Homo sapiens: one gene and its partner. The protein of the gene in region 1 interacts with the protein of each later gene in a pairwise test. Each region holds a gene or a part of one and is shown in the gene's direction. Other genes may lie near its edges.

Region 1 (3,828 bases):
ATGGACTTCCAAAGTGGTCACCTACAGGTTAGTTTTGCTCTGGCTCATTTTGGCAAAAACAATAAAGCCTGTTTCCTAGGGGTCAAACATTGTTTTCTTGTTTGCTACTAGGATCGTATCATATACTCGAGACTTACCGCATATTACAGTGGATCGATTAGTGTCAAAGGCTTTAAACATGTGGGGCAAAGAGATCCCCCTGCATTTCAGGAAAGTTGTATGGGGAACTGCTGACATCATGATTGGCTTTGCGCGAGGAGGTAAGAAAGATTCCTGTAGGCTAATCCTGTGTCCTGTTTTGTTTGTTCATGGTTTATATCAGTGCTCTTTTCTTATGAAGATTAAAATCCTTTAATGAGATATGATTGGTAGATAGATAGTTAATAGATAGATTTAGCAATATTATTATAATTTTTATAATCTGGTAATATAGAGCCACTTTTTATAGCAGCAGTTGGCAAACTATGATGCATGAGCCAAATCCAGCCCACCTTCTGTTTTTGTAAATAAAGTTTTACTGGAACACAGTCAGGCTCCTTCATTTCCCTATTACCTATGACTGTTTGGGCTCAGGCTGCAACTGTGACAGAGATCACAAAGCTTAAACACTTGTTATCTGACCCTTTACAGAAAAAGTTTGCCAACCCCTGTTTTGTAACGTGAATTATTATTTATATATACAGTCATGCACTGCTTAACAATGGGAATACACTCTGAGAATGAGAACTTTGGCAATCTTGTCACTGTGCTAACATCATAGAATACACTTACACAAACCCAGGTGATACAGCCCACTATCCACCTAGGCTACATAGTATAGCCTATTGCTCCTAGGCTGTAAATCTATACAGCATGTTACTATACTGAATACGGTAGGCAACTGTAACACAGTGGCAAGTATTTGTGTGTCTAAACGTATTTAAACATTGAAAAGGTAATGTATTGAGCTATGACATTATCACAACTACTATATCACTAGGCTATAGGAATTTTTCAGCTCCATTATAATCTTATAGGACCATTGTATATGTGATCTGTTTACTGAAAGATCATTATGTAGCACATGACTATATGTTTACAATATATCTACCTAACATCGATATTAAATCAACAGAAAGAGTCGCAGCTTCCAAAGGCCTCAAGAGTCCCCTGAGAAGTGGTATATGACCTGTTGCTAATGCCTTTCATGTGGCAAGGAAGTAGGAAATGGAAACTTTCATATTAAAGAACTTAAAAATATATAACACAGCAGGGTGTGGTGGCTCACGCCTGTAATCCCAGCACTTCGGGAGGCCAAGGCAGGTGGATCATCTGCGGTCAGGAGTTCAAGACCAGCCTGGCCAATAGGGTGAAACCCCATCTCTACTAAAACAAAAATTAGCTGAGCATGGTGACGCATGCCTGTAATTCCAGCTGCTTGGGAGGCTGAAGCATGAGAATCGCTTGAACCTGGGAGGCAGAGGTTGCAATGAGCCAAGGTCACACCACTGTATTCCAGCCTGGGCAACAGAGCAAGACTATGTCTCAAAAGAAAAAAAAAAAATATATATATATATATTTTTTTTTTTTACGTGGGTTTTTCTATATGTAAAACCCATTTTTTTAGTATATGTGTTATATATGTGTGTGTGTGTATATATGTATATATAAAACCCATATACATAAATTGTTCTTAATTGCTAGTGTTTCATGGTGCAAATTTAGAGAAAAATGTTGCCCATTTCAGTCTGTTCTATGTGGAATGGTCCGGCTACTGTAGCTGAAATTTGAACTTCAACCCACAATATTGACAACACCGAAGAAAATGTTATGGGAAAGCACTAATCATGGCACTACAAGTTTTTTAAGAGCTAGATAAACTGGACTGGCCTCATATCACCTCGAAGATAACCAGCTCTGCATCACACATTAAAGGACTATAAAAAGCCATTTTAAGAGATCTTGAGCATGGCTCTCTAAGAGACTATTTACTATGCCCACGAAGAATAAGCTAGGTTTTTAAGAAAAAAAAAAAAAAAAACCTATGAAATGGTGCACAAATTACTTGCCAAATGTGGTATTCATATTCATTCTCCCTCCCACCACCCTTTGGCCGAGCAAAGTGGTCAAATTTAACAAAAGCTTAAATGCAACCTTAAGTTAGATATAACTGCATTTTAAGTCCTGTATCCAGTAAGCTTTCAATATATGGTGATTATCAGTGATGAGCAATGGTTCTGTGAAAGGAAAAGTGTCTGGGCCAAGAAAGCACCCAAACTACCCTGTGAGTGCAACCGACAGCACATAACAATGTCAGCTACTTGCACTGGGCTGCCTTTTTTTTTTTTTTAATTTATTTTTTGAGATGGAGTTTCACTGTTGTCACCCAGGCTGGAGTGCAGTGGCGCGATCTCAGCTCACTGCAACTTCCGCCTCCTGAGTTCAAGCAATTCTCCAGCCTCAGCCTCCCAAGTAGCTGGGATTACTACTTGGTGGCATGTGCCACCATGTCCAAATTTTTGTATTTTTAGTAGAGACGGGGTTTCACCATGTTAGCCAGACAGGTCTCAAACTCCTGACCTCAGGTGATCCGCCCACCTCGGCCTCGCAAAGTGAGCCACCATGCCTGGCCTGGACTGGGCTGCTTTTTCTAGCCTCAATAATCGTATAAACTGAAAAATAAAATGACTGGAGAAAAAAAAAATCAGTCACTAAGAACAATCACTCCATTTTCTTTCAGCTCATGGGGACTCCTACCCATTTGATGGGCCAGGAAACACGCTGGCTCATGCCTTTGCGCCTGGGACAGGTCTCGGAGGAGATGCTCACTTCGATGAGGATGAACGCTGGACGGATGGTAGCAGTCTAGGTATAGCATCTCATGTCTCTTCTACTCCACATCCGTTTTAAAATCCTGGACTTACACTAAGTTAAATAATTATATTAATTTATAATAAGTATTGAGCCCTTGCTAAGTGCCAAACACTGTACTATATGCCTGAAATGCATTATTTCATGTAATATACTCATAATGCTACACACAGAAGATGGACACTCAGGCTATGGAGTCAAGCACCACTGATCCAATTTGCTGTACGTCTACCAATTACTCTGTGTCATTGGGCAAGTTATTGAATTTCTCTGAGCCTCAGTTTCCTCCTCTGTGGAATGGAAATATAAATAGTTCCCACATCAAGGAGTCTTTAAATTAAATGAGATAATGCTTATACAGTGCTTGGAATGTATTAATAATTAATTAAATTATAGCTCTTTCTTCATATTTCCAAAAAATACATGCCCCAAATGGAAAAGAAAGAGAAGTAGAAACTATGATATTTGAGAAGTATATGCAATTCTGGAATTATTCACTATTTTCCAGAAAGAACCAACTCCATGATTTAGTATATCATATTTATCATTTTACATAGTAGGATATTATAGGCACATGAGAGAACTAATGGAGAAGAGCTCTGGCATAAATAATCCCAATTAGAGACAATTTTTTTAAGGCTACCAACTGGCCCTAAAAGGGAAATTTGTACTTGTGTTTGGCAAAAGGAATTCACCATAGCTTGCTGTCTTGCTGTGAAAATCTATGTTAAATTGTGATGCTGCCTCCCATTTGCATCTGGCATATTCTTTTCATTCTTCTTTCTTCCCACTTAAGGTAGGTTAAAGGCAGCTTCCTTCAATTCAATGCAACGCCACCAGAGCTCAGGCCACTCCTCAAACGCACGGGCTCACACCTTCCACATACTTGCAAAGCCTTTCAATGAGTATGAGGGAGAACAAAGGATATATGTAATACAAGTTAATGAATCAAAATCAAAAACAAAGCCCAGCATTGCC
Region 2 (3,828 bases), on another chromosome or scaffold:
ATACTCAACCTGTATAAAATATCCAGTGTGTATAAATGAAGCATATGTTAAGCCCTAGGAGGAGCTCTGCCTGTTTGAGTTTTACCAAAAATAAGGTAATATTTTATGGTTTTTTTTTTTTTTTTTTTTTTTTGAGATGAGGTCGCTCTGTCACCCAGGCTGGAGTGCAGTGGTGCCATCACAGCTCACTGCAGCCTTGACCTCCTAGGCTCAAATGATCCTCCCACCTCAGCCCCTCGAGTAGCTGGGAACACAGGCATGCGCCACCACACCCGGCTAATTTTTGTATTTTTCATAGAGACAGGGTTTTGCCATATTGCCCAGGCTAGTCTTGAACTCTTGGGCTCAAGCGATTTGCCCACCTTGGCCTCCCAGTGTGCTGGGATTACAGGCATGAGCCACCACACCCAGCCAATATCTTGCATTTGAATCAAGTAGTGGACATTTATTGGATCCCTTGGGGCCGATGCCATTTCTAAAAGTGATTGAGTAAATATCACAGGTGGGCAAATCAAAGAGAAGGATATTCTGGTTGTTTCAAGGTCCAGGTAATTCAGGCCATGGCACAGGTGATCCTGAGCTTAGGAAGAACTCACCCATGCCTCAGGGGCCCAGCTGCCCTCCTCCCCTCACTGCTGGAGCACCTACAACAGCTGTGAAGCATCTTGTGCTTTTGGAGCCTTGACATGGGAAGGAACAGGAGAAAGCAGGACTGATGTCTCCAGACCACCCCTTAGGCAAACCCTCTTTGGTAGCATCTTAGACCCAAATATTTTTTTCCTTCACGTCACGTTGCCTGAATTTTTTCACCTTAGTTTGTTGTACTGCCAAATATTTTATTTGGAATAACAAGTACCTTTGAAAAAAAAAAAGCACATACAAACTTCAGCTCCCCTTTGAGGCTTAGCTCCAACAGCACCTTTCCTTTCCTTCTTAGAAGTAAGCTTTCTGGGTTTGAATTCCTACAGCACACATTCTGACTCATAGCATCTGTGACTTGTTATTTCACATTTCCATGGATGCATCTCATCTGCCTTGCTGCACTGTAGGCCCTTCGGCTTTTATTTTTTTTTAATTCTTAATCTTTATGGGTACATAGCAGGTATATATATTTATGGCATACGTTAGATGTTTTGACACAGGTATGCAATGCCTAATAATCACATCATGGAAAATGGGGTATCCCTCTTCTCATTTATTTGTGTTACAAACAATCCAGTTATACTTTTAGTTATTTTCAAACGTACAATGAAATTATTGACTATAGTCACCCTGCTGTGCTGTCAAATACCCGGCCTTATTCATTCATTATAACTATTTTTGTCACCCATTAACTATCCCCACCTCCCTCCCACCCTCCCTCACTACCTTTCCCAGCCTCTGGTAACCATCCTTCTATTCTATATCTCTGTGGGCTCAATTGTTTTGAGTTTTAGATCCTGTGGCCCCTTTGACCATGCAGATCATGGCCTATTCATCTTCACACCTAGATAGGAGCCTGCGCAGTGCCTGGCCAGGAGCAGGCATAAGTGTGTGCAAATAGAGGAATAAATAGCAGGGCAGCAACTATGTCTGGAGGTCATTGTCTTTCCTGTCTCAGTAGTAATCAATCACTGCTTATCTTCAAAAACCCAGAGTAGGGGATGGGGCAGTTAGTGGGGACAGAGGGCAGATGGGTAAGATTCAGAGCACAGGCTAGTGTGACGGAAGTTTAAACTTGTGAGTTAAATAGGGTTTGGCAATCTAGCTGGATAGCATCCCTGCCCCTTGAAGAGATGTTTTTGTGGCGCCACACTACTGACTTAGGCATAATGCCTAGAGATGGATTAGAACTGCACAATGAACTAGTGGTGAGGTTCAGTTTAATGGAAATTGGTGAAAGCTTTTAGGATAAAATGATAATCTTTGTTTCTTTCAGGAAAATGGCAGACAATTTTTCGGTAAGTGTTTTATGCCTGTTTCTTCCCCTTGATCAGCTCCACATGGTTGAGGGTTGGGGGTTTTGTTTTTACCATGACTTTCCCTTTTCACTCTCCCACTGCGTGGCTTCCCCTGGACTCATTTGTCCAATGAGGGCTTGCAAGCTGGAGCCTTGTTTTTCCAGCAGCAGATTTGGGAAGAAAGCCAGGCAGAGCGAGGCCTGGGACTCACTCACAGTAACCCTTTCACCAAAAGGCCCAGGGCGGAAGGGAGTGGACTCTGCCGGCAGGAGCTGAGAAATCCTCTGAGTAGCGGGAAGTGCGGTACAGTCTGGGCATTCTGATGTTTGTGATTGTTTTTCTCACGGTGATGAAAAAGTATGTGCTATAAGTAGAGGAGCGCTAACTCCTGACTTGAGCTAATTATGAAAATGCAGCCCTCCCTGATCTGAGACGTTGGGAGGCAAGAATAAAGTGAAAAAGTATATGTAATCCCAACATCTAATTTTAGTCTTAGAAACTCAAACTATTAATAAGTGGAAAAAGTTTAATGATATGCATGTAATGCCTTTGCCATATTCCTCTCCTTCTTAGATCACATATTCCTATTTTCCTGAAAATTCTGCTTTTGAGAATGCTTTCTGTCCCGTAATTGTGTATGTCTTTCTTTCCAGCTCCATGATGCGTTATCTGGGTCTGGAAACCCAAACCCTCAAGGATGGCCTGGCGCATGGGGGAACCAGCCTGCTGGGGCAGGGGGCTACCCAGGGGCTTCCTATCCTGGGGCCTACCCCGGGCAGGCACCCCCAGGGGCTTATCCTGGACAGGCACCTCCAGGCGCCTACCCTGGAGCACCTGGAGCTTATCCCGGAGCACCTGCACCTGGAGTCTACCCAGGGCCACCCAGCGGCCCTGGGGCCTACCCATCTTCTGGACAGCCAAGTGCCACCGGAGCCTACCCTGCCACTGGCCCCTATGGCGCCCCTGCTGGGCCACTGGTGAGATGGCATTCCTTCTTTCATGTACTTGACATGCAGAGGGCTTCAGGGAGACCCTGAGCTTTAAAGCTGCTGCTTAGAGCCACTTCTCAAGGGCCAGCCATGGGTGTATGTTGGTAGAGTCAAAAAATTAAGTGTTCATATTGAGCTTATTGTGTGTGGTTAGTATAAACAGAAGGTAATGAGTATTTTGAAGGCACTGATAAAACTGCTTATGAATATAAATCAAGATTGTAGTAATGGAGAACATTTTGGTTATTATTAACACTTACGGAGTACATGTCAATAGTATGCATCTACATGGATAATCTCATTTAACCCCATTACCACGCTATAAGATACTGTTAATAACCCCATTTCACACATGGGGAAATGGGGCAATAGAGAAGTGATATAATTTGTCCAGGGTCATTGAGCAAACATGTAGAGGAACCAGGGTAATCTGGTTTTGAAAAACCTTCTAAAGATAATTTTGTGATCTAAGGGTTGAATTTTCACGCAAATTAAAATATGTCATAGCAAGTGAATTCTAAGTGTAAAACATAACTCCATGGGGGATCCAGATACATCTCAGCCACAGGATCCTTCCTTTCCAGATTTATAATCTAGTTGGATGATAAAACATATAATAAATATGAGGAAAGAGCTAAGTACCAGTATGGGATTAGACCATTTCAGGACTATGCAGAAGACAGCACAAGGTAGCATTGTCTCCTTTTAGGTCAGTTTAGAGTAGAAAGACTTGGGGGAGTGGGTGGCATTGAGAGGGCCTATACCAGAGATGGTTAGTCAGTTGCAGAGAGAGGGAGACATGAAGGCTGTGGAAAGGAACAGGCAGATGTAAGAGAGATTACAGAGGAAGAACCCCCAGAATCTACTGATTATGTCTTAGGAGTCATAGAGGACTCTGA

What was found.
Region 2: the proteins of MMP7 (region 1) and LGALS3 interact in binary tests that used the Homo sapiens proteins (3 or more experiments, as listed by UniProt).

The regions. Positions count from the first base shown.
Region 1 is NC_000011.10:102,523,956-102,527,783, reverse strand, and holds part of MMP7 (matrilysin preproprotein), read left to right. Parts: coding exon 1-27; intron 28-111; coding exon 112-260; intron 261-2,719; coding exon 2,720-2,848; intron 2,849-3,828. UniProt on the Homo sapiens protein: Degrades casein, gelatins of types I, III, IV, and V, and fibronectin. Activates procollagenase.
Region 2 is NC_000014.9:55,135,452-55,139,279, forward strand, and holds part of LGALS3 (galectin-3), read left to right. Parts: intron 1-1,531; exon of another isoform or gene 1,532-1,918; coding exon of another isoform or gene 1,919-1,922; coding exon 1,923-1,940; exon of another isoform or gene 1,941-2,593; coding exon 2,594-2,917; intron 2,918-3,828. UniProt on the Homo sapiens protein: Galactose-specific lectin which binds IgE. May mediate with the alpha-3, beta-1 integrin the stimulation by CSPG4 of endothelial cells migration.